2 separate regions of the Homo sapiens genome follow, and region 2 is linked to region 1. Evidence: fine-mapped expression QTL. A gene starts in region 1. The other region holds a variant in brackets. All regions are shown on one strand. Distances are between the middles of the regions.

The links.
Region 2: its variant is fine-mapped to the expression of EXD2 in blood mononuclear cells (TOPMed, PIP above 0.99).

Annotation. Positions count from the first base shown.
Region 1 is chr14:69,183,581-69,199,389 of GRCh38, reverse strand. It overlaps EXD2 (exonuclease 3'-5' domain containing 2), which reads right to left and starts at 7,892. Exons shown (of 10, transcript NM_001193360.2): 1 at 7,799-7,892. It overlaps GALNT16-AS1 (GALNT16 and EXD2 antisense RNA 1), which reads left to right. Exons shown (of 4, transcript NR_184249.1): 3 at 3,189-3,350; 4 at 14,893-15,809. RefSeq lists a silencer at 7,482-7,671.
Region 2 is chr14:69,237,353-69,253,161 of GRCh38, reverse strand. It overlaps EXD2 (exonuclease 3'-5' domain containing 2), which reads right to left. Exons shown (of 10, transcript NM_001193360.2): 9 at 15,231-15,587; 10 at 9,144-12,278. The coding sequence ends at 12,062. All of the region lies in intron 2 of GALNT16-AS1 (GALNT16 and EXD2 antisense RNA 1), which reads left to right. Among named protein-coding and RNA genes, the nearest start is that of GALNT16, 15 kb to the left of the region's middle. RefSeq lists an enhancer at 13,816-14,440. The variant T/G (reference allele first, on the strand shown) is at 9,083.

The DNA of each region.
Region 1 (15,809 bases):
AAGATCTAAAGTAGTGTACAGTCACGTCCTAAGCCTTCACATTCACCCACCACTCACTCACAGGTTCACCCAGAGCAACTTCCAGTCCTGCAAGCTCCATGCATGGTAGATACCCTACATAAGTGTAACACTATTTATCTTTTCTTGAGACGGAGTCTCACTCTGTTGCCCAGGCTGGTGTGCAGTGGCGTGATCTCGGCTCACTGCAAACTCTGCCTCCCAAGTTCAAGCGATTCTCCTGCCTCAGCCTCCTGAGTAGCCGGGGCTACAGGCGTGTGCCACCACACAAGACTATTTTTTAAATTTTTAGTAGAGACGGGGTTTCACCATGTTGGCCAGGCTGGTCTCGAACTCCTGACCTCAGGTGATCTGCCCGCCTCAGCCTCCCAAAGTACTGGGATTATAGGCGTGAGCCTCCATGCCCGGCCCACTGTTTAGCTTTTATACCACATTTTTACTGTACTTTTATGTTTAGGTATGTTTAGATACACAAATACTTACCACTGTGTTACAACTGCCTACAGGACTCAGTACAATAACATGCCATATAGGTCTATAGCCTAGGAGTAATAAGCTATACCATACAGCCTAGGTGTGTAGTCAGCTATTCCATCTAGGTTCGTGTAAGTGTGCTCTATCGTGTTCACAAAATGACACATTTCACAGAACAGATCCTCATTAAGTGATGCCATTACTACAGTTCACCTTGTTTCTTTTTATATCTTTAATGTGGCTACTAGAAAATTTTAAATTGGGGCTCACATTCTACTTCTAATGGACACTACTGTGCTAAAATATAATGTGCAAGTAAGGAAATAGAGATGATGCTGGAATGAGTAGATACAGGACAAGTCATGAGGGGCCATCATTATCCTACAGGACACTGGAGAGCAAATAACAGACTTATAAGGAGAGTGACAGGATGAGACCACCATGGTACTAATGTGGGTGCTAGCCTGGAGGAGAGCAAGGCCGTAGGCAGAGAGACCTGTTAGAAGCTCATAAAGCAGAGCGGAGAGGCAAAGAATACTCGAATTATGGCAGAGGAATGTAGAATGAAAAAGAACCACAGCTCCTGAACAGAATGACTGCATCACAACCACCTGGAAAAACAACAAAGTCATCAACCAACTTTTAGAAATTATATGGTAATTCAGAAAGTCTGATGAGTATAAAATCAATAGCTTTCCAAACCTATTATAAAAATGTGAAAAAAGAAATCTCATTCATAATAGCAATATACCTGTATACTATTTTAAAACTACATAAAAAAACCACATAATCACATACACAAGTCTAGGAAAGAATTCAACAAGAAATGTGTCAGATCAATACAAAGAGGAACAGAAAACTTTAGTGAAGATCTAGAAGAAGACCAGAAGAGTGGAGATGTATGATAGCAGCTGTCAAACAGGACCAATCATGTGCCAGGCACTTTACATGTACATATATACTCATATTAAAGTATTCATTTAATCCTTTCAATAACCCTATGTGGGAGGTACTATAATTATCCTATTTTTGATAAGAAGAAAAGATTGTTTTATAGAAATACTCAAAATAATATGTAAATTCAATACAAACTTCATTTTAAAAAACTTTTTAAAAGAATGAATTGACTGTGTGCAGATGAGAAAAATGGATGCAGCAACATGGATCAGCTGGAGGCCACGACCTGAGTGAATTAATGCAGGAACAGAAAACCAAATACTGCGTGTTCTCACTTGTAAGTGCAGCTAAACACCCAGTACACATGGACATAAAGACGGGAACAACAGACACTGGGGACTACCAGAGGGGAGGGGAAGACAGGGAAGGGGGCCGCAGGCTGAAAAACGACCTATACCCAATACCTGAGTGAAGGACTCATCCATACCCCAAACTCCAGCATAACATGTTACCCATGTAACAAACCTGCACATGTACCACCCTGAATTTAAAATAAAAGTTGAAATTATAAAAAAAAAAGAATGAATCAACCATCGAGACAGCGAAAAGACAACCCACAGAATGGGAAAAAATATTTACAAATCATATATTTGGGAAGGGTGTGTATCTAGAATACACAAAAATCTCTTACCACCAAATAATAAAAAGACAGACCAATTTAAAAACTGGCTAAGAATCTGAATAGGTATTTCTGTTCTTTATTTTTTAATATATTTTTTAGAGACGAGATCTGGCTCTGTTGCCCAGGCTGCAGTGCAGTGATGCAATCACAGCTCACGACAGCCTCAAACTCCTGGGCTCAAGTGATCCTTCTGCCTCAGCCTCTTGACTACAAGTGTGCTAACTGAACAGACAAGTCCAGCTAACTGAATAGACATTTCCTGATAGAGGGTATACAAATGGCCAATAAGCACTTGAAAAGATGTTCAATATCATGAGCTGTTAGGGAAATGCAAATCCAAACCACAATCAGATACCACTTTACACCAAGTAGGATGGTTCTATTCAAAAAAACAAATAAGGCCAAGTATGGTGGTGCACACCTGTAATTCCAGCACTCTGATCCAAGGTGGGAGGATCACTTGACGCCAGGAATTTGAGACTAGCCTGGGCAACATAGTGAGACCCTGCCTCAAAAAAAAAAAAAATTAATTGGCCAGGAGTGGTAGTGTGCCTATAGACTTAGCTACTTGGGAGGCTGAGGCAGGAGGATTGCTTGAGTTCAGGAGTTTGAGGCTGCAGTAAGCTTTGATCACTCCACTGCACTCCAGCCTGGTCAACAGAGTAAGACCCTGTCTCTCAAAAAAAAAAAAAAAAAGTGCTGGCAATAATGTGGAGAAATTAGAAATCTCATGCATTGTTGGTGGGAATGTCAAATGGTACAGCTGCTCTGGAACACAGTCTGGCAGTTATATAACCTAGCAATGCCACTGGCAGGTATATACCCAAGGGAAATGAAAACACATGTCCGTACTAAAGTTCATAGCTATTCATAATAGCCCAAAAGTGGAAACAACTCAAATGTCAATTAGTTGATGAACAGATAAATAAAATGTAGCATATCCGTATGTTATGAGTTGAATCGTATTCCCCAAAAAGATATGTTGAAGGTCTAACCCCCAGGACCTGTGAATGTGACCTTATTTGAAAATAGGGTCTTCGCAGATGTAATCAAGTTAACATGAGGTCATACTGAAGTAGGGTGCGCCCTTAATCAACTATGACTTGTGTCCTTACAGGAGGAGGAGAAGAAACAGGCTTACGCTGAGCGAATCCAATGTGCAGACAGACACACAGGGAAGGTGACCATTTGAAGACGGAGGCAGAAACTGAAGTTGTGCAACTGCAAACCAAGAAATGCCATGGATTGCCAACAACCACCAGGAACTAGAAGAGGCAAGGTAGGATTCTCCCCTAGAGCCTTCAGGAAGAGCACAACCCTGCTGACACCTTAATTTTGAACTTCTAGCTTCCTTAACTGCGAGAGAATAAACCTCTGTTGTTTTAAGTCAGCAGTTTGTGTTACTTTGACCACAGCCCTACAAAATAAATATACCACAGGATGAAATTTCATTCAGTAATAAAAAGAATGAAGTACTGAAACATGCTATAGCATGGAAGAATCTTCAGTACATTATCCTAAGTTAAAGCAGTCAGTCACAAAAGACTACACATTGTATGATTCCTTTTACACAAAACACCCAGATCTCGAAAGACAGAAATATTAGTGGTTGCCTAGGGCTGGGGTCTCAGGGGAGTCAGGGATAGGGACTGACTTCTAATTGGTATGGGTTTCTTTTTGGGGTGATAAAAATGTTCTAAAATTAGACTACGGTGATGTTTGCACGACTCTATGAATATACTAAAATCATTAAATTGTACACTTTGAAGAATTGTATGGTGTGTGAATTACTTCTCAATAAAGCCATTAAAAAATGATTTGGAGCTGCGTGTGGTGGTTCACACCTGTAATCCCAGCATTTTGGAAGGCCAAGGCGGGTGAGTCACTTGAACCCAGGAGTTCAAGACCAGCCTGCGCAGCATGGTGAAACTTCATCTCTATAAACAATACAAAAATTAGCCAGTGTGGTGGTACACACCTGTAGTCCCAGCTACTTGGGGGGCTGAGGCAGGAGGATCACTCGAGCCCAGGAGGTCAAGGCTGCCACTGCACTCCAGCTGAGTGACAGAGTGAGACCTCATCTCTCTTTTTTTTTTTTTTTTGAGACAGAGTCTCGCTCTGTTACTCAGGCTGGAGTGCAGTGGTGCAATTTCAGCTCACTGCAACCTCTGCCTTCTGGGTTCAAGTGATTTTCCTGCCTCAGCCTCCTGAGTAGCTGGGATTACAGGCGCACACCATCACGCCCGGCTAATTTTTGTATTTTTAGTAGAGACTGGGTTTCACCATGTTGGTCAGGCTGGTCTCAAACTCTTGACCTGGTGATCCGCCCGTCTCAACCACCCAAAGTGCTGGGATTACAGGCGTAAGCCACCGCGCCCGGCTCCCATCTCTTAAAAGAAAAAAATAATTGACAAGTTGACTGTAAAATTAATCTGGAAAAGAAACTAATAATAACCAAAAATATTGTTTTTTAAATGAGAGTACATGAGCTGATATAGTATATGACTTCCAATAAAATAATAATCATGATGGAGTATTTACCCTATTAATGTCAACATATAACATATAGTTTAATATAGGATGTTGTGGTATTGGTCCAGCAAAATAGAAAAGTATGCCATAGAACAGAAGACAGTCTAGAAACAGATCCTGTATGATAAATGAGCACATGAGGCCAGGCGAGGTGGCTCATGTCCATAATTCCAGAACTTTGGGAGGCTGATGGGGGAGAATCTCCTGAGGCCAGGAGTTTGAGACCAGCCTGAACAACATAGCAAAAACTCATCTCTATCTCTACAAATAAAAATTAAAAAGAAAAAAAAGAAATTAGTACATGGTAAGTGTGGCATTTCGGATTAATGGTTCAAGAATGGACTGACTAGGCCGGGCGCGGTGGCTCACACCTGTAATCCCAGCACTTTGGGAGGCCGAGGCAGGTGGATCACGAGGTCAGGAGATCGAGACCATCCTAGCAAACACGGTGAAACCCCATCTCTACTAAAAATACAAAAAATTAGCCAAGCGAGGTGGTGGGCGCCTGTAGTCCCAGCTACTTGGGAGGCTGAGGCAGGAGAATGGCATGAACTCGGGAGGCAGAGGTTGCAGTGAGCTGAGATCGCGCCACTGCACTCCAGCCTGGGCGACACAGCGAGACTCTGACTCAAAAAAAAAAAAAAGAATGGACTGACTGTTCGAGGTGACAGTATTTGGAAAACAACAATCACACACACACAATTCCAGAGGAATTAAAGAAAAAAAACTATTCCCACAAGAAGAACTTCAAGGAGAAAACAGAGCTTTAGGAGAAAACCCTCCTCTCTCTAAAAGTAGAGAAGGATTTTTCAACTTCAGCACAACTGACATTTTTGGCTGGTGAAATTCTTTGTTGTGGGAAGCTTTCCCGTGCGCTGTAGGATGTTTAGCAGCACCCTCGCTTTTACTCACTAGATAACCAATAGCAGCACCATCCTAGTGGAACAAACAAAAAATGTTTACAGACATTGCCAAATAACCCCGAGAGCAAAAATCTCTGCCATTTAAGAACCACTCGGATTGGGAATGATAGCCACAAAATACAAACACACACATAACAGACTGATAAATTAAAACCTAAAATTTTAAACTTTGTTTCAACAAAGATGCCATATAGTTAAAAGACAAGCAACAACTTAAAAAAGCAATAAGCAGGGAGTAAATATTATAAACACATATGAATAACAAAAGATCAAAATCCAGAACATATAAAATACTATTATAAATCAATAAGGAAAAGACAATCCAATAGAAAGAGATGTTTCTCAAAAGAGGAAATACAAATGGCTGACAATCATGAAGATGTTCAATCTCAATAGTAATCAGGGGAATGCAAATTAAAACAGCAAAGAGAAATCACTTTTCCATCCATCAGATTGGCAAAAACAAAAAAGATCGATACCATTAAATGATCAAAAGAGCATGGTGGGCCAGACACGGTGGCTCACGCCTGTAATCCCATCACTTCGGGAGGCCAAGGCAGGCGGATCACTCGAGTTTAGGAGTTTGAGACCAGCCTGGCAAATACGGTGAAACCCCGTCTCTACTAAAAATACAAAAATTAGCCAGGCGTGGTAGCGGGTGCCTGTAATACCAGCTACTCGGGAGGCTGAGGCAGGAGAATCGCTTGAACCTGGGAGGCAGAGGCTGCAGTGAGCTGAGATCACGCCACTGCACTCCAACCTGGGCAACAGAGCAAGACTCTGTCTCAAAAAAAAAAAAAAAAGAGAGAGAGAATGGAGGAAATTATTATCCACCGTGGGTGGCAGTTTGGCATTCCTAAATCCCCATACTCTCCCACCCAGCAATTCCACCTGCAGGTACCCATCCTTGAGAAATGCTCTCACATGGGCTCTCACAGAGGTGTGTGGGAAGGATGTTCTCCGCCATACTGTGTCTAACAATGAAAAACTGGAAACAATCTATGGAATCTTACATAACCATGGAATTTACAGAGCAAGTAGAAAGAATAGGTAGATCTCTAGGTACTGACAAAGAAAAAATTCCAAGACCCGTTTTTAAGCATAAAACGTCAAGTTGTGTAATGCATAAAACATGCATATTTGTAAAAGTTTAAAGCGAAATCTTACAAACATATATCTTATACGTACACATACTTGTCAAATAAATGCAAAGAAAAATACACACAAACTGACAACAGTTCTTATTTTGTGGGAAAGGGACTGGTAAAGAAGGTGGAGATGGAAAAAAACAAAATCAAAGAGGATCTGTCTTCCACACTCCCCACCCTCACCACCAAGAACATCAAGCTAAGAAAGATCTGTGTTTAAAATTTTTACATAATTTTGTTACAAGGCTTTATGCACGGACTATAACTAGAATATTTTAAAAATACATTTTTAAAACAAGCTCAACTTGACCAAATTTAATCCATCTTCCCCGCTGCGCCCCAACCCGCACTTCCTAATTCCTATGATTAACAAAACCTTTCAATTCCTTCTATCCTTGGAACAGAACTAAGAAAATAAAGTATAATTTCAATTTTGTGTTTTTGAGGAGAGGGTATATAAAGGAGTTTGAATGTTGGAATCATATCAAAAGCTTATCGGGGGATTGGTTTGTTTGTATTTTAAGGAGCAGATGTCAATTTTGTAATAAATAATGATTAAGGTTCTTAGTTTTGATCCATCCCAGGGATGTGAAAAGCCAAAGAGGTGGCTCCCGGCAAGGCCCAGAGCAGGGTGTGGTCTGGGAGGACAGGGATGGTAGCGAGGGTGGCGGCTCACACGAATCCAGGAGAGAAAACAGCAGCTGTTGCCGCGTCGAACCCGCAGCGCCCGAGGAGCTACCAGGTGCCGCGGGCGGGGCCTCCTTTTTAGCTGACTGGGACACGCAGCCTCGAAGGTCTGGTAGAGTCTCCCAGGGAGAGGGTAAGGGGGTCGAAAGGAGAGGCCCAAGGAGGGCGTGGGAGGCCGCGGGCAGGGGTGAGGCCCTCCTTGCGCACCTGGGTGCTGAACCGCCCCGCCGTGTGCGACGGGGGCGAGGGGGTCACGCCGAGGGGCGGGGAGAGGGGCAGGGCCAACTCGCTCCGGGACAGCGGGGGCCCCGCAATGTCACCCCCGTACACGGTAATATCCCCCCGCTCCACGACCCCTCTTAGTCTGCACTGGAAGCACCCCCTGCCCCGCGCACAATCCTGGTGCAAGGCTTCGCCGGCTTCTGAGCCTCACTTACCTGCTGTCTCGGACTGGGCCGCACACCTGCAGCGGGCTCACGTTAAAGACCTGGAACCTGTGCGGCCGCCTGCGCGCACCCACCCGGATTCACTAGGGCCGTAACCACTTCCGTTCCTGCGACAGGCCTGGAGGACGTAATCCCAGCTGGCGTGTGGGAACGGGCAACGCCATTTTGTACGGAAGCTACTGGGGCAGGTGATGCCTACCCAGTCTCTCTCCTCTGTTGAACAAAGGATCTGTTAAAATTGGAAGGGCTTAACGTCTTCTTCAGAAAAGTGACGCATTTGTTACTGGGATGGTATGTTTGTGTTTTGGTTTTGGCTTTGAAGGGAGAAACCTCCAGAACTCTCACAAATGTAATATGGGACATCGAATTTTCCTTCTTTAGTATCCTGCGTACTGTTTTTCTGCTAAACGATAACAGTAAATAGAAGGAAAGACACTGTATTTAAATAATGTAGTCTTCATTAGCAGTGCACATTATCCTATAGCCACTATAATAATTTTATGTACCCTCCTTTTTTTTTTTTTTTTTTTTTTTTGTAGATACTGTCTCCCTACATTGCCTAGGCTGGTCTCGAACTCCTGGGCTCAAGCGAACCTCACAACTCGGCCTCCCAAAGTGCTGGGATTACAGGCGTGAATGCCCAACCTATGCCATCTTTTATAGCGATAACCACAATACTTTTTGTTTATATATTAAATCGTTCATCCAATCAGTCTTTATTAGCAATTATATGTGAGGCAGTTAATCTGTGCTACATGCATGCTTTTCCTTTCTCATGGAATGTGTAAAACAGAAGGAGAAATGAGATGTGCATAAATAACCAATATAAGGTATAATAATAGCTACCATTTGTTGACTTTGTGCTCACCTGTTGCTAGGAACTTTGCAAAGCATTTTACTTATTTTTTCTCCTTTAATCCCCATAACAACCCTGTGAGGCAGTACTATTATTAGTGCCGTTTTACATAAAATAGAAAAAGGTTAAATAACTTCCTCAAGGTAATTCAGCAAGTAAGCACCGGAGTTAGGAATCAAACCTCATATTTCTGATTGCAGAGCATGTGGCCCCATCCTTTATACTATATTGCCTTCAATACAGGGGCAAATGTTTTAAATTCCATTGAATGAGTACCCATGGGGGAAATTTCCAGCTATTATAGAGGATTAACTCCCTGAATTTTTATCTGCTCCATCTTGAAACACTTAAAAAACAAAGGATAAAGAGGAAATGCAAATTAAAACCACAATGAGATATAGCTAAATGAAAAAGAAAATGTCAAGTATTGGCAAGATTGTGGAGCAACCACAACTCTCATATGCTCCTGAAGGGAACATAAATTGATGCAATCACTTTGTTTAACTGTTTGGCGGTATCAACTGAATCTGAATATGTGAAAAGACTTTGTTCCAACAATTTCACCCCTAGCTGGGGCACAGTGGCTCAACGTGTCATCCCAGCACTTTAGGGATTTTCACTGTGTTGCCCAGGCTGGTCTTGAACTCCTGGCCTCAAGCGATCCTCCCACCTCGGCCTCCCAAAGTGCTGGGCATCATGGTGTGCACCTGTAGTCCCAGCTACTCCAGAAGCTTAGGCAGGAGGACGTCTTGATCCCTGGAGTTTGAGGCTGCAGTGAGTTGTGATCACACCACTGCAGTCCAGCATAGGTGACAGAGCTAGACCCTGTCTCGAAAACAAAAACAACAAAAAACAATTTTACTCCTAGTTATATATATGCAACTGAAATGTCTGCATGTATTCACCAAAAGGACATGTACAAAAAAAAGCTCATACCCATACTTTCAACAGCCCCAAACGGGAAACTACCCAAATATCCCTGCTATTAGAAGTCACTGTATATAATGATTAATCTTAGGGTAGTAATAACTGGAAGGGAACATGAGGAGGTTCACGAAGTGCTGATAATGTTCTATTTCTTAATCTGAGTGCGGCTTTACATGTGTGTTCAGGTTATATTTGTGAGCACTTTTCTGGTTTCATATATACTTCGATAAAAGGGTTTTTAAAAATGATAGTAAAGGAGTGAAAAGTTTGTTAACCCAAAGAAGAAAGAACAGGAAAGGACATAGTACCAAACTAAAAAAAAAGATACAATTTTAAAAGATAGAAATTAGATTAGAATGGCAGATACATTGTATGCTTGTATCAAAATATCTCATGTACCCCATAAATATGTACATCTACTGTGTGCCCACAAAAATTAATAATTAAAAACAAAAAGAATAGCAGAATATTGACATTTGGAGGATTTCATAAAGAACTGTCTGGGTTCACAAGCAATCACTCTACATTAAGGCCCAGTCAACAAGACTCATCTGTGCATACAGAATTTCTAATCAGCTTTTAAAATACAGTTTCTCACTTTTAAATATGAGAAGACATCCAAGAATCACCAGTCATTATGGGAATGTCTGACATAATTAATTAACCTTTTCTAAGGAGCATGTATAGAACTATGTAAAGAACCCTCCATTCCTGAGGAAGACAAAGAAAAGAACTATGTCCTCAACGATGTGAAAACACAAATTGTTCTCAAATATACTTTTCACATTTACAGGGAAGATTTAAGAAAATTAATTTTGATTTAGGCCATTGATTATCTAACTGGTTGCTGTTTTTAAAATCAAATAATTTTTAAAAATGTAGGCTATTGAGCAACTTTTTACAAATTGCAAAAAATTGCTATCATACAGATCACATTCTCTGACTACATTGCAATTAAGTTAGAAATCAATCATGAAGCTGGGTGCGGTGGCTCATGCCTGTAATCCCAGCAGTTTGGGAGGCTGAGGCAGGAGGATCACCTGAGGTCAGGAGTTCAAGACCAGCCTGGCCAACACGGTGAAACCCTGTCTCTACTAAAAATACAAAAATTAGCCAGGCACAGTGGCCGATGCCTGTAAACCCAGCTACTTGGGAGACTGAGGCAGGAGAACTGCTTGAACTGGGGAAACGGAGGTTGCAGTAAGCCGAGATCGTGCCAATGCATTCCAGCATGGGCAACAGAGCGAGGCTCCATCAAAAAAAAAAAAAAGAGAGAGAGAGAGAACGAAAGAGAGAGAAAGAAAGAGGGAGAGAGGGAAGAAGGAAGGAAGGAAGGGAGGAAGGAAGGAAGGAAGGAAGGGAAAGAAAGGATTATTTTTAAAACTCCGTGTACTTGGAAATTACGTCTGTAATCCCAGCACTTTGAGAGACTTAGGCATGTGGATCACTTGAGCCTAGGAGTTTGAGACCACTCTGGGCAACATGGCAAAACTCCACCTCTACCCAAAATACGAAAATTAGCTGGGTGTGGTGGCACACACCTGTGGTCCCAGCTACTCGGGAGGCAGTTGTGGGAGGATCGCTTGAGTCTTGGGGGCGGAGGTTAAACAATGGCTAAAATCCAAAACACTGCCAACACCAAATTCTGCTAAGGATGTGGAGCAACAGGAACTCTCATTCATTGCTGTTGGGAATGCAAAATGGTATAGCCACTTCTGAAGACAGTTTGGCAGTTTCCTATAAAGGTAAAGATAGTCTCAGCATGCAATCCAGCAGCCACACCCTTGGGTATTTACCAAAATGAGTTGAAAACTTAGGACCACACATAAACTTGCACATGAATGTTGACAGCAGGTTTATTTATAAGCTGGAAACAACCAAGATGTCTTTCAGTAGGTGAAAGAATAACCAAACTGGTACATCCTTACAATGGAATATTATTCAGAACTAAAAAGAAAGAAGTTATCAAGCTGCAAAAAATAACATGGAGAAACCTTAAATGTATATTGCTAAGTGAAAGAGGTCAGTCTGCCATGGCTACATACCGTATGGTTCCAACAGTATGACATTTTGGAAAAGGCAAAGCTGTAGAGATAGTAAAAAGATCAATGGTTGCCAGGGATTCCAGGGGAGGAGGAAAGGCGGAATAGCTGGAGCAAGGGGATTTTTAGGCCAGTGAAACTATTCTGTGTGATACAGTAATGGTGGATACATGACATTAGGCATTTGTCAAAACGTGTGGAACTGTGCAACATGATGAGTGAACTCTAATGTAAACTATAAACTTTGGCTAATAAGGTATCAATATAATTTTGTAGCAAATGTACAATACCCGTGCAAGATGTCAATAATAGATGAAACTGCAACTGCATGTGGTGAGGGGAGGTATGTGGGAGCTCTCTGCACATTCTGTTCAAATTTTCTGTAAACCTAAAACTGCTCTAGAAATAAAGTCAATTAATTTTTTTTAAAAAAGGTTATTGTGTGAACTATCTAAAATACTTTATTCATTTGTTTATTCATTCCAAGGACAACTTAATGTCAAGCACTGGGCTAGGGATTCATGGGACATCATGTGCAGAAAATTCACGAGGAACTGTGGCCGGAAGTGCTGGTTGCCCACCTAGTATGCATTCTCCCTTTCCACTTAGGGGGCATTAAACAATTGCATTTACAAAATACAATTTTCTGTCTTCATTAGGAGTAGGTGTGGCCATGTGACTAAGTTCTGGCTAATTAGTTATAAGCAAAAGTTTTTGCATGGGACTTTTGGTAATGTTTCTAAAAAGGTGACAGGCTGGGCGCGGTGGCTTATTCCTGTAATCCCAGCACTTTGAAAGTCCAAGGCGGGCGGATCACTTGAGGTCAGGAGTTCAAGACCACCAACATGGTGAAACCCCATCTCTACTAAAAATTCAAAAATTAGCTGGATGTGGTGGCACATACCTGTAATCCAAGCTACTTGGGAAGCTGGAGCATGAGAATCACTTGAACCTGGGAGGCAGAGGTTGCAGTGAGCTGAGATTGCACTACTGCACTCCAGCCTGAGTGACAGAGCGAGAGACTCTGTCTCAAAAAAAAAAAAAAAAAGAAAGAAAGAAAAGAAAAAGGGGATGAAGAGGACAGAGCTGGGTGTGATGGCCCACACCTGTAATCCCAGCACTTTGAGAGGCCAAGACAGGAGGATCACTTGAGCCCAGGAGTTCAAGACCAGGCTGGGCAACATAGGGATACCCCGTTTCTACAAAAGAGTAAAAAATTAGCTGGGCATGGTAGTTTGTGCCTGTAGTCCCAGTTACTTGGAAGGCCAAGGTGGAAGGATTGCTTGAGCCAGGGAGGGCAAGGCTGCCAGTGAGCCATGACTGGGCCACTGCACTCTAGCCTGGTAGACAGAGATTCTGTCTCATAAATAATGAGGGGAGAGACAACTCCCACAAGGCCTCTTTTGCCTTTTGTCATTGCCCTTCCCCTTCTTCCTTGCTTATACTAAGACCTGATAGCTGAATCTCCAACAGTTCTCTGCCATCACAGTGGCAATTTAAAATGAAATCCAGGTGCTTAGGAAGACGGAGTGGAGAGGTAGATGTAGCCTGGATCCCTGATGCCTTCTGTAGTTTCCATACTAACCCTGAGCAACCTACCTCTGAACTTTGAACTTTTTTTTTTTTTTGAGATGGAGTCTCATTCTGTTGCCCAGGCTGGAGTGCAGTAGCACGATATCGGCTCACTGCAACCTCTGCCTCCCAGGTTCAAGTGGTTCTCCTGCCTCACCCTCCTGAGTAGCTAGGACTACAGGTGCATGCCACTCCACCTGGCTAATTTTTTATATTTTTAGTAGAGACGGGGTTTCACCATATTGGCCAGGCTGGTCTCGAACTCCTGACCTCGTGATCCACCTGCCTCGGCCTCCCAAAGTGCTGGGATTACAGGTGTGAGGCACCACACTCAGCCTGTACTTCTTTTACATGGGAAAATAAACCTCTAATTTTCTTAAGCTACTGCAGTCAATGTTACTAGTGGTAGAATCCAATCCCTAACTGATATGGAAAACAAAAGATATTAATGATAAATGCATGCCACACCAGTCAACTAAAACCTATTTAATACAATGCCCAGCACTGAAGATACACAAAAAAGGTAGAAGATAATGATGGAGGTCAAAATTTAGAGGAATCGCTGCCTGATAGACTATTTCTGAAAAATCTTTCCTTCCATTGATTTTTTTTTTTTTAAGAAACAGGGTCTTGCTCTGTTGCCCAGGCTGGATGAAGTATAGTGGCATGATCCTAGTTCACTGCAACCTCAAACTTCTGGGCTGAAGCAATCCTCCCCGCTCAGCCTCTCAAGTAGCTGGGACTGCAGGAGTGCACCACCACACTCAACTAATTTTTTAATTTTTAGTAGAGACAAGGTCTTGCTGTGCAGCCAAGGCTAGTCTCAAACTCCTAGCCTCAAGCAATCCTCCCACCTCAGCCTTCTAAAGTGCTGGGATTACAGGTGTGAGCCAGTGTGCCTGGCCCCTTCCGATGATATTCATTTTTTTTAATCTTTTTTTGAGATGGAGTCTTGCTCTGTCACCCAGGCTGGAGTGCAGTGGCGCGATCTCGGCTCACTGCAAGCTCCGCCTCCCGGGTTCACGCCATTCTCCTGCCTCAGCCTCCCGAGTAGCTGGGACTACAGGCGCCCGCCACCACGCCCGGCTAATTTTTTGTATTTTTAGTAGAGACGGGATTTCACCACGTTAGCCAGGATGGTCTCGATCTCCTGACCTCATGATCCACCCGCTTTGGCCTCCCAAAGTGCTGGATTACAAGCATGAGCCACCGCGCCCGGCCCTTCTGATGATATTCTATCCATGCTTTCTACCCACTGATTCCTTTCCTCTATAAATTTGGGTAATATTATTAGGTACTATACAGACTATAAAATATATAGCTATTGTCTGTGCACTCAAGAAGCTCTGGAGCTACTTGGAAACACAAGAAAGAATGTTTGTTAGCAAATGAGAAGGGTTTTTGGTGGTTTAGAGAACTTTGTTTCTGCAATAAGTGGTGTGTTTGGGGCAAAATGAGGTGCCGAGCTGAATTGCTTTGTAGGGTAAAAGGATAAGGAATTAGAAAGCTCAGTGAGTCAATCAAAGATTGAGAAGGGAATCAGCAAGGCTCCAAAATTATTGCAAAGAAGATATCTACAGAGGAGAGACTTTAGGGGAGAAAGAAATGTTTAAGATGTTTGGGGAGTTGAATTTAAGTTGCTACGGGGTTTGTGAATGTTACCTAACTTCATCTTCTATCTTCCACAGGTAAGGTTCAGCAAAGTCTATGTCATTCTCTAATCCTTTTGATCCAGCGGATTCTTTGGAGGAATTTGAATACATATTGGATTTTGCATCCAGGTTTGCAAGAGGAAAATACAAAGGTGACTTCTGGGCCTGCTGGAGGTGGAGGGTAGAGGATGGACAGCTGACATCTAGTCACAGAGGAAAGAACACAGAAAGAGATCTCCAGTTAAAGCTGATAGATTGAACCACAGACAACCCACCTCCTTCTAAAATCCCTCTAGAACAATGGTTTAAAAAAAGTGCTTTAACATAAAACTTCAAAATCAAAAAGATAAGGAAAATGATGAAAACCACTCAGATAAGAAGAGAGGATATTTATGCAGAGGCTGCTGTCGTTGGGAGTCCGCCACCATACCACTATACTTTGGTGAGACTTGAAGGCAGGCAGGGAGTGGAAACACTTTATGCTGTAGTGAAAAAAGGGGAAGGCTTCGGTATGCTCTGACTGGAGATCATTGTCATGGGGAAACTGCAGGTGGGCTAACTAGAGGCTGGGCTTCTTGTGTAATGGTTTGGCTTTCTCTGGTTGGTCCTGTGTTGAAAATAGGGGCAAAATATAGGGAAGCTGACTCATTGACCAAGCCCTGCCCAGGCTGGCCAATTGCAGAGGTTGTGGGTCAGAGTTCTATTGTCATATATGGTCTGGCTACTGTCTGTTTATATAATCCGTCTCTCAGAGAACAGTAGAGGAGATCAAATTATTAACATTTTGGAAGCTGGAAAGCAGGAGGATAGTGTGAGCTGAATTAGCAGACTTGCCATCTATCAAAGGGGATAGCCAAAAGCAAGCCAGATTTGCCCCAGAGAACCACCAAAGGTTCAAGAATTGGCAGCACCAGGTACCCCCAGAAGCAGGGATAAAGTGGGGGCTGAAATTG
Region 2 (15,809 bases), 54 kb before region 1:
GGAGCTGATGCCAAAACAGGGAGGATTTTAAAATATCATCCTGCCATTTTATCAGCGTGTAAATTTTATGGAGTTTCCTCCTGGTAGGTGGTAGGAAACAGCTGGGGCTGTCTATCAGTGCTCATGGAGCCAGTGGTGGCAGAGCTCCATGGTGGCATGGCCAGGCACATCCTCCCCACGCACAGCTTGTCTTCTTAGTTGTCCAGTCTAAGTTGACATTTATCCCTTTTGCCCAACAAGAAAATACCTGCCCAGTGACAGTAAGCCAGAGGGCTGCAAGTTTTTTGGCAGAGGGATGGCGCTATGCTGCCTCTCACAGCCTCTGCCTGGACCCTGAATCTCAGCCCGGAGCCCAGCAGGACAGACAGACAATAGACTTTGCCGGCAGCCATCTTCTGTCTTCTGCCAGTACTTGTGTATGGGTGGGTGGGCGGGTGCATGTGTGCACAGGCTCTGTTTTCAATTGGAATTTGACTTCAGGCTTTTCCTGGAATTACTAATTTCTTTCCTCCTATTTGTGTCCACCGGAGAAAATTTCTAAATCCATGTCTGATCACTTGTCTTTCCTTCCACCTCTGAATCACTTATCTTTACAAAGACCACTACCTAAAGATGGAGCACGCAGTATTTTCTTGGGCAACTGGGACAACTGGGAGATGGGAAACCTGGGTTTTAGAAATGACACTTCAGAATATATCGATGGATATCTTCAGCCATACTGACAGCTTCAAGATACATACCAATTCCAGGAACACTGCTTTAATTTCCACTTCAGTAGCTGATATGCTGTCAGCTAGCATGGTGACCCTGGAAAAGTCACTTATCTGGGCCTCTTCCTCATGTTTATGGGGAGGGCTTTGGGAAAAAAAGGAAGGAAGAAAAAGAAAAGAAGAGAAAAGAAAAAAGAAAAGAAGAAAGAAAAAAGTACTTGGAAGGTCCTTTCAAGTGCTAGCATTTTAGAATTCTATTTACTTGTTTTAATGTTTTAAACCATTCCCTGCCTCAGCAAGAATGATGGGCAATCAACTAGGATACAATTTTCTTTATTATCATTTGATCCCCCCCTCTACATCTTACACACACACAGACATACACACACACACACACACACACACACACACATCCCAACAACTGAAAATAGTCCATTTGTTCAAGAATCTGGAAACTTCTGGATTACAGCAGACTAAAAAAGGAGAAATTGGAAGAATGTACAAGAAATTGGTACATCTGGGGATGCCTCTGAGGAGGGGAGTTTGAGGGGAGCATGAGTAGGAGAGAGACCTTCATTGTATACCCTTTGTGCCTTTTCAATTTTTTTTACCTCTTTACCTAAAATTCTTTTCCAGCAAGAAAAAAGTTTTCCTTCCTCTTTCTTCTACCTCAGGCCTCTCTGCAGCTCAGTGCCTAGGGGAAGAGGAGCCCAGTGACTGAGCTGGAGTCACACGCTGGAAGCTGCCTTCAGACCAGACCCTCCCTAAGGGTCCCTCTCTAGCCAGGCTGGCCAACAGCCTTGCTCCCCCGGCTGCCCCATGGGCCTGGAGGGGTTCTGTGGGTGCACACCCGCTGCTGGCTACCCCTGCCGCCGGCACTCATCTGAGCTGTCGAGCTGTGTAGGGATTCCATTCAGAGTGCTCCAGTAAGGGACTGGCCCCATAGCTCCAGCAGCAGATGGGCAAAGAGGCCTAAGAATTCAGCAAAAGGGGAAGTACATCCAGCCTTAAATTCTCCAGGCTGTGCCATCCCCTTTCAAATGCAGACTGCCTTTGTTTGTTTTCTACTACTAATATAACATGAGGACAGGCTCATAAAAAATAATAAAAGGGCAAGAGATGAGTAGGAGACAGGGTCCTCACAGATCCCTTTGTTCCTGGCCTTATCCCCAAACTGCTTGCCTCCATGTGGCAGAGCTGAGCTGCAGGGTCTCTGGCAGGGTCCCACTGCCCTGGTCTCCCCAGTGCCTGCTCCTCATCAACTTTCCCTCATGACATCCAGCCTCCACCTGACCTTCCTCTTTTGATTCTAACCTTTAATGGGTGCTGGCCCATCACTTGTGTGTCCTATGTTCTCTATGCCCCTCCTCAGATTTCTGATCCCCCCCATTACCTGTTTCACCGACTTATGGCACTGCCACACTGCCAAGAATAGCCATCATCACTGAGGTCTGCTTCCTAGTCTGGAGCTCTCACTTGCCCCACAACCGAGATTGTTCGAGGTAGGAGCCTCTACCGTCCATTCACATACCCCATACCCTACATCTTTCCAGAATCAACACAGCCAATCTCCCCTTAGCAAGTAAAAAATATTCATGTCCTTCCTTTGTATGACCCCTTACTGGGAATCCAGAGATCATGATGCTTAGGTCTTGTAAGTGGTCTCCGTGGATAGGGTGGGAAGAGGCCACATTGGTCTTCTGAAGTCCTAACTCTCTTTGCTAAAAGATACTCTTTTGAAAATGGCTCTGCACGCTGCCCATGCTCAATCTGGGGTGTCCTGGCTGTGCTGGAGCACTGACTGCTGACCTCACATTGCAGGCCCCAGTGTTTGCCACTGCAATGAGCAGCCTCTCCTGCCTCCCCAGCTGCACACAGGCCCAGGTGGGGCTGGGCTGTCCCCAAGCAGGCCACGGGAAGGTGGAGGCAAGAAGATCATCGGGAAGCCATGACAGTCAGACAAGCAGCAGCAGATGGGGATGTGCACTGGGTGGAGTGGACAAATAGCACGAGGAAAATCAGCTTTGGGGACAGAAAAAGCCAAGTGGGAAGTGTAATAAATACTAAAACCAGAAAAGCCTGAAGACAGTCCATCTAGGGAGCAGCAGGAGGATGGCTAACATCACTGGAGTTTAGGTCGAAGGGGAGGACAGCAGGAGGGGTCGAGGTGGTCAGTATTCCAGGGGCTAGGGACAAGAGAAATGGCACAACATAAGTCTCTCGGGAAGGGTCACTCACCTTCCAAGCTGTTGGACTCATTGGCTGCCACAAGAAGAATCTATTTAAAACACACCAGGCATTTTGCCTCATTCTGTTTCCCTGCCCAGAAAAGGCTGGAGCCGAAGGCTGAGGGAGAGGGAAGGATTCCAGCATCAGGACCCTGCATGGATGACATGGCTGAGACCATTCAGGATGGGGAAGATCCCTGCTCCATCCTGAATGACCCACACTTACATCCCCCACCCCCACCTAAGCTGCCAGGCCACTAAACTCCTCGCATATTGAACACAGTCCCAAAGGCAGCTTGTGGTACCATTTCCACTGGGAAATACTCAATGGCTTCCTTCATCCTGTTTTCAAGCTTGTCAGAAAGCAGATGCTGCTCAAATCTGACAGCTGCTCTTAAGGGCACGCTCAAAGGGCACTCCCTGACCAGTGGGAATATTCTTAATGATGACTGAGAGGCCTTGGGTGTTTAGACTATGGCAAGACAAAGGAGCGAGCATGAAAGGGCATCAAGGGTAAAATGGCCCTAGGGAAACCATACGGGACTTGAATTGGAAAACACCAACAGCCTCGCTCCTTTCTCTGGACTGTGTATCTTTGGGAAGTTCTAATTTGGAGAAGACCTGACTCCTTATCCACCTGCCACAGAGAAAGTATTAATAAAATATGAGGCTAGGGTCTATGAGAAGTGGCCCAGGAAAGCCATCTATGCAAATTTTGTTTCCTTCCTACTTGAGAGGGTTGGGGATGAGAGGTCCTTCCTTCCCTGGCTCATAAGCCCATGAGTTGTGTAAAACACTGTTCAAGAAGGCAGAATATAAGCCCTCTGTTGTGCATGATATTCATATTCTTGAAAGAATTAGTGTATAAATCAAATTTTACCTGCCAGAGAAGCTGGCTTTTCAAAATAAATTTGAAGTCAATCCTATGTTTAAACAGAAGGATGGCTTGTAAAGGTGAATAACCATCCTAGGTCACAATTTGCAAATTGGGAACTCTGAATGTCTGACTTGGATGGTGGGGCAGGGGGTTCTGTCTAGAGATTAATCTATGGTTTGCTTTTAGGTTGCAACTAAGCATTACTTTAAAACAAACAAAAGACTGAGTTTTTAAAGAACATTTTTAATGGAAAATTTCAAATATATATATATATATATATAGAGAGAGAGGGGGCCCACTATGATAAACACACAGCTTCAGTGATTCTCAACCCATGGCCAATCCTGTGAGAAACATGAACTTTTGAACCAGCTGACAGATATAGAGGATGAACTTCGTGGTACAGAACAAAAAGAAGTAGTCCTACTCAGGCTGCAGTATCCAAAACGTTTCTGCATAAATGCCCTAAACTAGAGCCTAAAGTGTGAAACAAAGGGGTGGAGAATATTATTGGTTCGCGACCAAATAAGAAACCTGGGAATTAAAACACAAAACAAAACCACACACACATACAATCTCTCTGAGGGATGCAAATTAATAGTAACACTGGTTGCCTTCAAGGAGGGCAGAAAGACTGGAGCGATTTTCATTATATGTTTTTTAAAAATTTTATACTATGTGCACATTTTACCTATTTTTAAAAATTAACTTACTAAAAACAAACATGAAGCTTTGCAATAACCAAATCCACTAGATGTGACAAAAGGGAAAACTGTCTGGACTCAATATATAAGAGGACTTATATTCTGCCTTACTGAACAGTGTTTTACACAACTCATGGGCTTATGAGCCAGGGAAGGACGGACCTCTCATCCCCAACCCTCTCAAGTAGGAAGGAAACAAAATTTGCATGGATGGCTTTCCTGGGCCACTTCTCCTACACCCTAGCCTTATATTCTATTAATACTTTCTCTGTGGCAGGTGGATCTTCATCACATTTTGATCTGGATTTACTGTTTTATAGTAATTTTCTCAGCTAGAAGAATGCACAACCTTCCAATCCCAAAACGTACATCATTAGAATAGGTGCTTCACAAAATATTAAAAACACCAGCCCCTGGTGGTTATATGGATATATGCATTTGTCAAAATTCATTGAGTTGTATTCTTAGATGTGTGCACTTTATCATATGTTACTTATACTGCACTTTAATAAAGTATTGCTAAAAACAAAACAAAAAATCACAGTCCTTGTGGACAAATAAGCCAAAAAATCACCACTTAGAGGTTTGTTGGGTTGGTGGTTCAGAGAAAGCTGCTGTTATGAGGAAACATTATGTGGACTTTTTGCAAAAACTTACTCTTTGGAAACCACCACTACAGCATGTGCTTTTGGTTAAGCATTCCATGGCTGAAACGCAACTCTATGCTGAAATGCCGAGAGGATGAGGCAAAATCTTGGCCAAGGTCAAGTTCTGTTGATGGTCTGAGAGGGGGATGGCAGCCAAGTGCTCTGCACTTGTATAACATTTAAAAAAGAAAAACTAACCTAAGTCATCTTCTGTTCCTTTTTGTAGCCAACTTTAGTCCTGCTCATTGTGTCCAAGAACTCAGAGGCAGCCATATGTGCAACAGCTCAGGCTTACCAAACCTCCAGGGCCAAACATACATATCGTGATTAAAAAGAAACGAAGCCAGCCAACAGGGCTTTAGTTGATTCCATGGGATATAAGGAGAAATTTCAGAATTTTAGATAAAGTTAGGGTCCATCGAGGAGAGGGCAGAGAAATGTAGTTGAGCTTCCTGTTTGGCTAGCTGCCTACTTTTTCTGAAACAAACAACAAAAGGACCCCAATTTGGTAAAAGCAGGGGCTCATGTCTAGATCTAGGTGATTATTGTGGAAAGAGCTCCAAGATGAACACATTTGATACAAATCTGTGTTACACAATGAAAAGCCAATCCACTTTGGGACTGAAACTAAGCACAAGGATGGACTAGAAATTGTATTTTCTGTCAGGTCATAGGGGATGGAGATATAGAAAGAAATGTCTTCAGCAGCTTATAAAATGCAAACTTTACATTTTGCACATGTCTGTCTAGCTGATGCCCAGGCAAAGGCAAAGGCAAGCAGGACAAAGTCCAAGGCATGTCAGGGTTATACAAAACAGGCTCCGGAGATGCTTCCCTGTCTCCCTGTGAGTTCTTCATGTCTTAGCACTCATGGATGGGTAAGAACACGTTAACAGTGTGGACGCCTCCAATATTCTTGGGCTGTTACAACCCCACACACAAAACACAGAAAGAGTATTTTTACTTATTGGTTTAAGGTTTTTTTTTCAAAGTACCCAATTCAATTCTCCATTACATACATATATACATACATATATGTGTGTATATATACATATGTATATATACACACATATATACGTATATATGTATATATACGTGTGTGTGTGTATATATATATAAAATCTTAATTTCTTTATCCTTAAAATGAGAAACAGTCTTTCCCCACTCAATATCCTCCCATCTACAACACCTGGCACACTTGCCTCATTTCCCTTTTACACTTATCTCCTATTAAATCCTAGAGCACTGGCAATGTGGTTAAACATACAGATTTCCCTTCTCTCTTTCTGATTATTCAGTGGACTGGGCGATAGGGAAATGTGAGCTCCCCACACACAGACATCTCTGGTGAGACAGGTATTCTGACACCAGATGGAGAGAGCAGGCTTCTCCCTAGTCAATGAGGCCATGGTGTGGCATCCTGCTTCCCTCATTACCCTTCTTTCCATGCAGTCTCCATTCCCAGCGCTGGGGGTGGGACGAGAGTGTGCAACAAAGCAGAAAGTACACAGTACTCAAGGGAAAGGGCCACATAAGGAAACAGTGGGGTGGATTACAGAATGCTACAGCTAGGAGGGCCCTTACAGCACATCTAATTCAAACCTCTATAGATACAGAAAGGAGCCCAGAAAAGTGATCTGTCCAAAGGCACACAGCTGGTGGCTGGAACCAGAACCTCAGTCACCAGCACACTTTTTTTTGATCCTCCAATACATGACAGAACTAGGTATAGGAAAGAGCAAAATTTAAAGTTCAGTTCATGAACAAGCCCCCAGCCTACCCCATCCCCACTAAACAAACATACCTCCTTTAAAATTATCCATGTTTCAGTCTCATTCCTTTTCAGCCCCCTGTAGCTGACTAAGCTCAAAATTCTGTTTCTTACCCAGGACTTAATAGATACCCTGGTGGCCTGAGTGGCCAGAATCTCAACTCCGCCCTGGCGTGCTGCAGCCTGAGAAGGGAGATCTTTAGGAAGCAGAAGTAGGGGCCGGGTGCGATGGCTCACGCCTGTAATCCCAGCACTTTGGGAGGCTGAGGCGGGCGGATCACCTAAGGTCAGGAGTTCGAGACCAGCCTGACCAACATGGTGAAACCACGTCTCTACTAAAAATACAAGAATTAGCCAGGTGCGGTGGTGCACGCCTGTAACCCCAGCTACTTGGGAGGCTGAAGCAGGAGACTCGCTTAAATCCAGGAGGCAGAGTTTGCAGGGAGCCAAGATTGCATCACTGCACTCCAGCCTGGATGACATGAGCAAAACTCTGTCTCAAAAAAAAAAAAAAAACAAAAAAAAAAGCAGCAGCAGCAGAAGCAGATTCTAAGTAGCCATTTCAACTCAGGAATTTTCTGAACCCAAACATCATGCTTATAATAATGCTGCCTGTAAACTCGGCAGCTTTTGAAGCTTATGCTGGGAGAAAGGCAACAGGCTACCCATCCAGCAAGAGAGAAAAATTCAAGAATAACAAATAGCAAAAAGCAAATGCTTTGAGTTCAGTCTGGAGGGTATGACATTATCTCCATTCAGTCACAACACAAAATGACCTTTGAGGCAGCCTGCACCACATCAGAAGGGGGTACAACCCAGGATGCATGAACTAGGTCCTTTGACAACTCTGTTCCTCTGCAAAGGCAGTTCTTGATTATCTCTCAAATGATTAACCATTTGGTCCAGTTACCCAGTTTCTAGGGGCCTTCAACCAGAGTTGGCCACAGATAAAGCTGGTTAAAAAAAAAATGGTCTAATGTACTTCCCACCTTTCTAAATAACATGCTAGCATTTAAGCAAGGCCTTGCTTCCTCAAGCAAAGGGAGTGACTAATACGTCTCCTAGCAGGCTGGTGGAATCGGTACTTTTGAACACATGGGCTGTGTGGCTGCACGTCATCCCTACTCCATTGCCTGATGCAAAACTACTCCAGGACTGGGACAGGCAGAAGGTGCTGGGCTCTTGCACAAGGGGTATCTTGGTGAATGCCTGAAAATTATACCTGAATTCCAAAACAAAAGTATTTGGGGGACTGAGCACAGTGGCTCATACCTGTAATCCCAGTACTTTGGGAGCTAAGGTGAGAGGACGGCTTGAGGCCAGGAGTTTGAGACCAGCTTGTGCAACAAAGCATGACTCTATCTCTACAAAAAAATTAAAAAATTAGCCAGGCATGGTGCCACAAGGCTGTAGTCCCAGCTACTTGGGAAGCTGAGATGGGAGGATTGCCTGAGCCCTGGAGGTTGAAGCAGCAGTGAGCCATGACTGCACCACTGCACTCCAGTCTGGAGTGAGACCATGTCAAAAAAAAAAAAAAAAAAAAAGTACTGGGGAGATTATGTATTATTTTTATGTTATTCATATCAATCAACAGTTAATCAAAACAAGAATCATTCTTATACCCTCTTTTAGTTTATCTCTTCCAACAGAAACTGATTCTCAGTGTATCCCTAAGGGGATTAGGTACTCTCAAAAAATAACCATCTTATAATAGGAAACATAAAAGACCAGAAAGAAAGATCCATTTAAAATACATAATAATTAGTAAACTAGCAAACTGAGAAAATATCTCCTTTAAAAGAAAAAATGATACTTCTTATAAGGCTGAGACATAAGGAAGGGGAAAAAAAGGAAGAAAGGATAAATAAATGAATGAAAAATTGAGAGGCAGGGTAAACTAAGAACTTAACTTACAGTCAAATGTTAGGGCCCCAAACTAATAGGCGAATAGGAAGGTGAACAAAACCTCTTTCTGCCTGCTGGATTCTTAAGAGTCTAAAATGCATGATTAAAATGGCTTTATTTCAACAGAACACATTTTGTCATCTGATCTCTATCCGTGACATGGATAAGAATAAGTAACTTATGGCTGTGCTCTTAAGCGTAAGCCGTAACAAATCCCTGAATATTGTGCCTCATTCACTT[T/G]GGGATGGCAAATCACTAATTGTTTGTGTAGCAGGGAAAAAACATCTGCCTACAGCCTATATTTTAAAATTTAAAATTTTATTTTTTTACCTTTTTTTTACATTTTTATTTTAAAATAAACAGTGTTTCCAAAAAACATTGACTACAAGGGGGAAATGAGGCAATAAGGTTGGAAGAAGGGAAGGACTCAAGAAGAAATGCTGAACCTGCAAACACAATGATCAGGGAGCATGCAGAGAGGCCCTTGCTGTGACACTGTCCTCTCACTGCTACTCCTATGAAGCCCAGTGACTATGCTGGGACACTGGAGCTAAAGGGTCAAAGAGAAGCATTTCATTCCTAAAAGGTGATGTCAATTTGTACTTAGCCCCAGCAATGTGAATCCCCCTCTTCACAGTCCAATTCTAAGATTCCATTCTTAAGAAATTACCAAAGATAGAGCCAAAGAGATATATACAAGAAACTTTATCACATCATCATTGATAATAAAAGTATCTGAAACAACCAAAATTTTCAACAGTGTGGGGATGGATAAGGTAGAACCACTAGAAATCTATTTTCAAAGATTTAAAAACATAGGAAGTTACTCGTGATACCATGTTAATCAGTGAGAGGGTAAAGTTAGGATACCAACCTGTATCTATGTATGACCTTCAATTTTGTGTAAATATACACCTTATATGCACTTTTTAATACTGAAAGGAAATTCATAAACATATCAGCAAAGTTTAGCTCTGTTTTAGATGGAGAGAAGATGGCTAATTTTTATTCTTTGTTTAGATTCTTCTGTAATGAGCATTGTTACTTTTATATCAGAAAAATAGACATTTGCCATAAAATAAGTCTACCCTCAAATCTCTGATTTAAGACGACAATTGTCAGTCTTAGGAAAAGCCTGCTAAAGTTCAAAGCAGACTCAAAGAAAAAAGATTCAAATCTACACAGTGACTCTCTCCTGAAAAGGATGAGAAATCTTGTGTGACGCAGTCTGGCTTTTTCCTCTACTTTGCTGCTGGCTCTATTTTACTGCGCCTCACAGAAAGCTCCATGGGAAAACCCTTTCCCTAGCACCTTAAATGACCTTAAGTGTTTCTCACCTCTTGGCATGAGGATTAGAAGGAAAGAAAATGAAACAGCCCTACTCCCTTGTTTCAAAGGAAAAATTTTTCTTGCAAAGCTATCAAAATGACTTAAAATCAGCTATGCAAAATTTGAAACATAAGTCATGAGTTACGTTCAGTAACCAGTTGCTTTTTTCTCAAGAATGAATATAAAAACAAATCTATGAGTGCCCTCTTGTGGCAAGCCTGACTATTACCACAACCCAAGTACCAGCCTCTCCCTGTCTATTTCCACGGCTCTCCTCCACTCCTGGGCTCCGCATAACACAGCCAGGAGGCAGAGACCCCATAATAACCCACTACAGTGAATGCACATTCCTCAAAGTGGCTGGTACTATTTGTTTTCAAGGATTTCTAGTTTAGATCCCAGAAATGCCTGCCTGAAGACAAGTGGGAATGAAGGGTCAGAAGAGCAAGATGCAGGATGTGCACGTGGGTTCATGGGCTGCTACTGATGGCCGATGGTGACTGTGTCTGGTATATCCATGCACACATACCATGGCACTGCCAGGAGGCAGGGACCTGTAGGATAAATAGCCCCTCCCCTAGGAATGCCAGTTTTATAAAGTCGCGAAGTTTTACATTTACATCCAGTGAGCCTTGTGCTTACAAGTAGTTTTATTATTAATTTTAGAGTAAACATCACCAACTTGGGCACAATTCCAAAATAGAGCTCTTGTTGGATTCTGGTCATAAAATTCTTTTTTAAGCTTGTTAAGATCTTATAAAATAAGAAAGTTTTCCCAATACTTTAGAAAAATTACTAATCATTAATAAGTCGATTTTATACTCAAAGTAATGGCCTAACATTTTGAAAGATGAAACAACGCTCCTCTTTTGAACATCTAATGTATTAAGTAAGCTCAGTGTCCCAGGCTTCAGAGGAGACAGAGAAGTCCTCATATTGCAACCTGACCAGATGACTCTGGGAGTGAATTAAATGCTTAAAAGAGGTCAGTCTTGCAAATTCGATGAAGCACAGAATACAGGGGAACTGATACTGATTCTGATAAAAGATAACATTACTCTCAGAAAGGGGTGAAGCTAAAAATCTTGCAGTTCTGGGGCAGGAGGAGTGCAACAAGCAGGCAACAAACAGCATGAAAGGAAAAGCTGAGTGAATTTCAAAGTTCTATTGGGAGATGGAGTTTGTGGTTCTTTCTGCCCCACCCAGGTCAAAGGCTCATGTCCAGAAAAGGATTTCTCCCAGTGATAGGGTGGAAGTGTGTGGCAGGAAGTTGCTGTTTGGTCCTGGAAGTGTAAAGGAAAGCCTTTTCAAGTACGTGAAGTAGACTGAAGTGACCCAGATGGGATGGATCCCAACCACATGAGTTACGGGAGAGCATGAAGCCAAAGAAATGATAATTATGAAGTTGAATTGGGAAAATAAATTTGACTCCTTGTTCACTTCTCCAGCCTTTGGAAGAACTTTTTCTCCCCTCCTAACAGGACCGATATACTGGACAGCCCCTGTTAGAGATAAACCGAGGCACTAGACAAGGAAGAAATGCATTAAAAACATTTTTTTTAAGTCTTGACAAGTCACTTCTGGGAGAATTCTTCATTTTTCCTCTGCACAGGGACAGCAGAAGAGGGAGAGTAAAAATAAAGGCGAAGGCCTCTCTTGTCCACAAAAATGAGAGGAAAAAAGACCCTGCCCGTTTAAAATCCAAAACCATAAACTCTCCTTCAAACAATATCTTTGCTCCAGCAGAAGCATCCTGGGATTAGTCTAGGTTAGTATTCTGAGTTGTGTCACACAGGCTTTGACAATTAATGATGTACTAAAATGGGAAGAGGTGACTCTTCAACCTTGGCTCCAGCTTCCCACTTGTCCTAACTGGGAGGAAAGCAGCTATCAAGACAGCTGGATGGGAAGATCTTCCCCGAATTTCCGGAGCAGCTTCTGATGGTTGTGGTCCACTGACCACTGCTGGGGCAGGTGCTTGGGCTGCATGGAGTCCAGGAAGTGCTGACGCCAGCGGCTCTCCAGCTGCATGAGGGAGCGCAGGCCACCCTGGCTGTGACACTGCACCACCTTCAGCCCGTGAGGAACATAGTTTTCATTGGAGATTCTGCCAAAACATGAAAAACAAAGTGTCTGAGGGAAACAAGCGCAGGATGGCCTCACAGACAGCTTCAAATGCTGCGCGCCAAGGGTAACTGGGGAGGTTGAAGGACTCCTAAAGGGTTAGTTACTTTGGTGTTTTCGAAACATCCTCTTTCTTATCTCTGCCCTTTTTATAGTCTGAACATACGACTCGCAATCCCAACAGAAGGTATTTGAGGGTTCTGAGCTCTACTGACAGGAAGGCCACTTCATAATGTTCAGCTCCCACGAGAGGGGCACTACCATCCAGCTGATAATGGATGAAGAATGCTGGTCTTCCATTTCTTCCAGGATTACCCAGTGACCAGTTCACCCCTCTTTTAAGTTGTTCATTCTGGGACACAGTATTTATATGAGGCTGTTAAATCGGCCCGCATGTTACACTTTTTCACAACACAATTTAATAACTGAATGTCAAATGCAAGGTAGCATATTTCTTTAGAGCCTTTTTTCTCACAAAAAGATGCCAAGCCACAGTGGTGAGAAGTGTTTCGGTCACAGTGAAATGCTTCCATGGTTGCTCAGTTGTGCAAATGGTGCCATTAAATGAGAAGATGAATGCCTCCCTCCTTCCTAACTAAGCAGAGTCCTTAAAAAACTGCTCCGATGCTGTGTGAATGGTGCTTTCACCTCCTGTGAATAAAGATGACCTTCCTCAAGGAAGCACCCTGCCCACACACACTCTCCTCTCCCTACATCCATACCCCATGTTCAATCCTCCCTCCCAAGACACCCGCCACCCCAGCAGTGTTGGCGTCTCTGGGTATCTGCAGACACTTTATTATTAATATTTAGCTCATGCGCTTCCCACTAACTTGCCTGTCTCCAAACAACTGTTCTTCTCAGTCACAAGTCCAGCATTCATCTACCCAATTCAGCAAGATGAATTTGTTAGAAAAGTCTGTGGCCGAAAGGGGAGGTTTAGCTGCTTTAGAAAACATATTGGCAGCTGGGCGTGGTGGCTCATGCCTGTAATCCCAGCACTTTGGGAGGCCAAAGCAGGAGGATCACTTGAGGTCAGGAGTTCGAGACCAGCCTGACCAACGAGGTGAAACCCTGCCTCTACTAAAAATACAAAAATTAGCCGTGTGTGGTGGCACACACTTGTAATCCCAGCTACTTACAAAACAACATCTATTCTACAACCTCACAAAATAGTTATGGGGATAAAATTCTATAATTCTTTTAAAACCCTGAAAGATTTTTTAAATTTAAGATATAGTAGCAGTTAACCAGTAAGAAATCTAAATCCTACTTTGTCGGGTTGTCATGAGAAACAATTAAGGCAATTTATGTGAAGTTTATTAGCTGGTTTGCTGCAAGATATAGTATATCTATAAATAACTGTTCAATAAATATTTGCAGTATCTGTAATGGATCAGTAGTAATGGATAAGAGTAAAAAAATTTTTGTTTTCTAAAAAAATTAAATATTTGCTTATAATTGGAGTTACTTTTTTATTTTTCAGTTAACAAAAACCAGCATCACGCTCAAGGTTTTGTGAACTTATCAGTTCCCTTATTTCAACTCCTGGTCCTGTTGGAAAAAGTGACAGTTGGGAGGCAGAACTGCGCATGGTAGCCCAGAGCTCTTACCATCTGAGCCACGTGCCCATTCATTTCTCATTTCAGAATACTGCATTGTGTCACAAGAATTCAACTATGTACTCATGGAGAAGGAGGGAGAAAGCAAGGAAGGAAAAAAGAGAAAAGTAATTTACATAGTAACAGCAATTCTGCTCAACATTCCATTCAGTGAGCCGATACCCTGGAGTGCAGGTGAGATAGGAACCATGAATTCATTAGTCACAGTTCTCACAGACCTGTATAAAGTCGGAGACACAAAACCACACATAGAATTGGCCCTCCATCTTTGTGGGTTCTGCATCTGTGGATTCAAACCTCAGATCAAAATGATTTGGGGCCAGGCACAGTGGTTCATGCCTGTAATCCCAGTTCTTCCAAGGCAGGTGGATTGCTTGAGGTCAGGAATCTGAGACCAGCCTGGGCAGCCTGGTGAAACCCCATCTCTACAAAAAATACAAAGATTAGCTGGGTGTGGTGGTGCATGCTTGTAGTCCCAGCTACTTGGGAGGCTGAGGTGAGAGGATCACTTGAGCCTGGGAGGTGGAAGTTACAGTGAGCCAAGATAGTGCCACTGCACTCCAGCCTGGGTGACAGAGCCATATACTATCTCAAAAAAACAAAACAAAAAAACCACAAAACTATTTGGAAAAAAAAAAAAAAAAACTATCTGTACTATCTGTACCAAACATGTACAAACTTTTTTCTCATTACTTCATAAACAATAAAATATAAAAGCTACTTACATAGCATTTGCATTGTATTAGGTATTATAAGTAATTTACAGGTTATTTAAAGTATACAGGAGGATGTGTGCAGGATATATGCAAATACTATGCCATTGTATATCAGGCACTTAAGCATTGGTGGATTTTAGTATCCAAGGGAGGTCCTGGAACCAATCCCCCATGGATACTGAGGGGTGAATGTACTGTATCTCATGGGGAACTTCAGAACTTCGAGGGTGTTATTGGACTATTATTTCATCTCATGTGCTGGCATGAGGATTTACGTCTGCATAGAATGTGTAAGATGCAGCTCCACCACAACTGCACTCGCACGCTAATCACAAAAATGACCGAAATTAAGTGTATGATCTTTAAAAAGGTCAAAGATAGGCACCTCACAAAAGCAAGTTTCCTATGGAAAGGAACTCCTCAAGTAGATTGTTCTATTCCACTTCCAAGGTATCTTAAACTACTAGACACCTACTAGGTGAAGCATGAGGCTAGGCACTGTGCCTAAGCAGCCAATGCCCCCTCCCTGGCAAGCATTCTCACTAAGTAATGAGGGTTAATGTCCCTGGTACATTCCACAATTCCTGTGCTTTGTACCTGGTCTCCAGGCTGGCAGCCTCTTGAAGCATCTCCTCTGTGACCACGTCTGTGTTATAAAACTCTCTGAGTGCTTGCAGCAGCTCCTCCTTTCGCTGAGTAGGCAGGCTCTCCGCGTTGAGCAGGGCCCTGGCCCCAGAACGCACCTGCCGGCGCTCAGGATCTTCCAGCAGGCGCAAGCCCTCCTCAGAGCCGATGGGGGCCTGGAACTCCTTGGCCAGCTGCTGCTTCAGATGGTTGTCATAGTAGTTGGAAATGGCATGGCAGGAGGTGCAGAGCAGCAGCACATCGTGGGAGTTGTGGTCCTTCATCTCGATGGGGAAGTGCTTCCGGTACTCATGTGGAATCACGTTCTTCCTGGAACAAGCCCAGCCGGAAAGCAGCGCTCATAAGTGTATGACAGAGCACATGGGAAGACAGCAGACAGGCTACTGGGGTTCTAACTGGGGCCTAACCATGACTGAGAAGCCTTGGGCACCACCGCCCAACACAGATCACAGAAAGGCAGTATCACCTATTCCACTCTCAGCCCATCTGTGTCTTAGCTTCCTCTCTCCTGCAAGTAAGTACAGACCACCT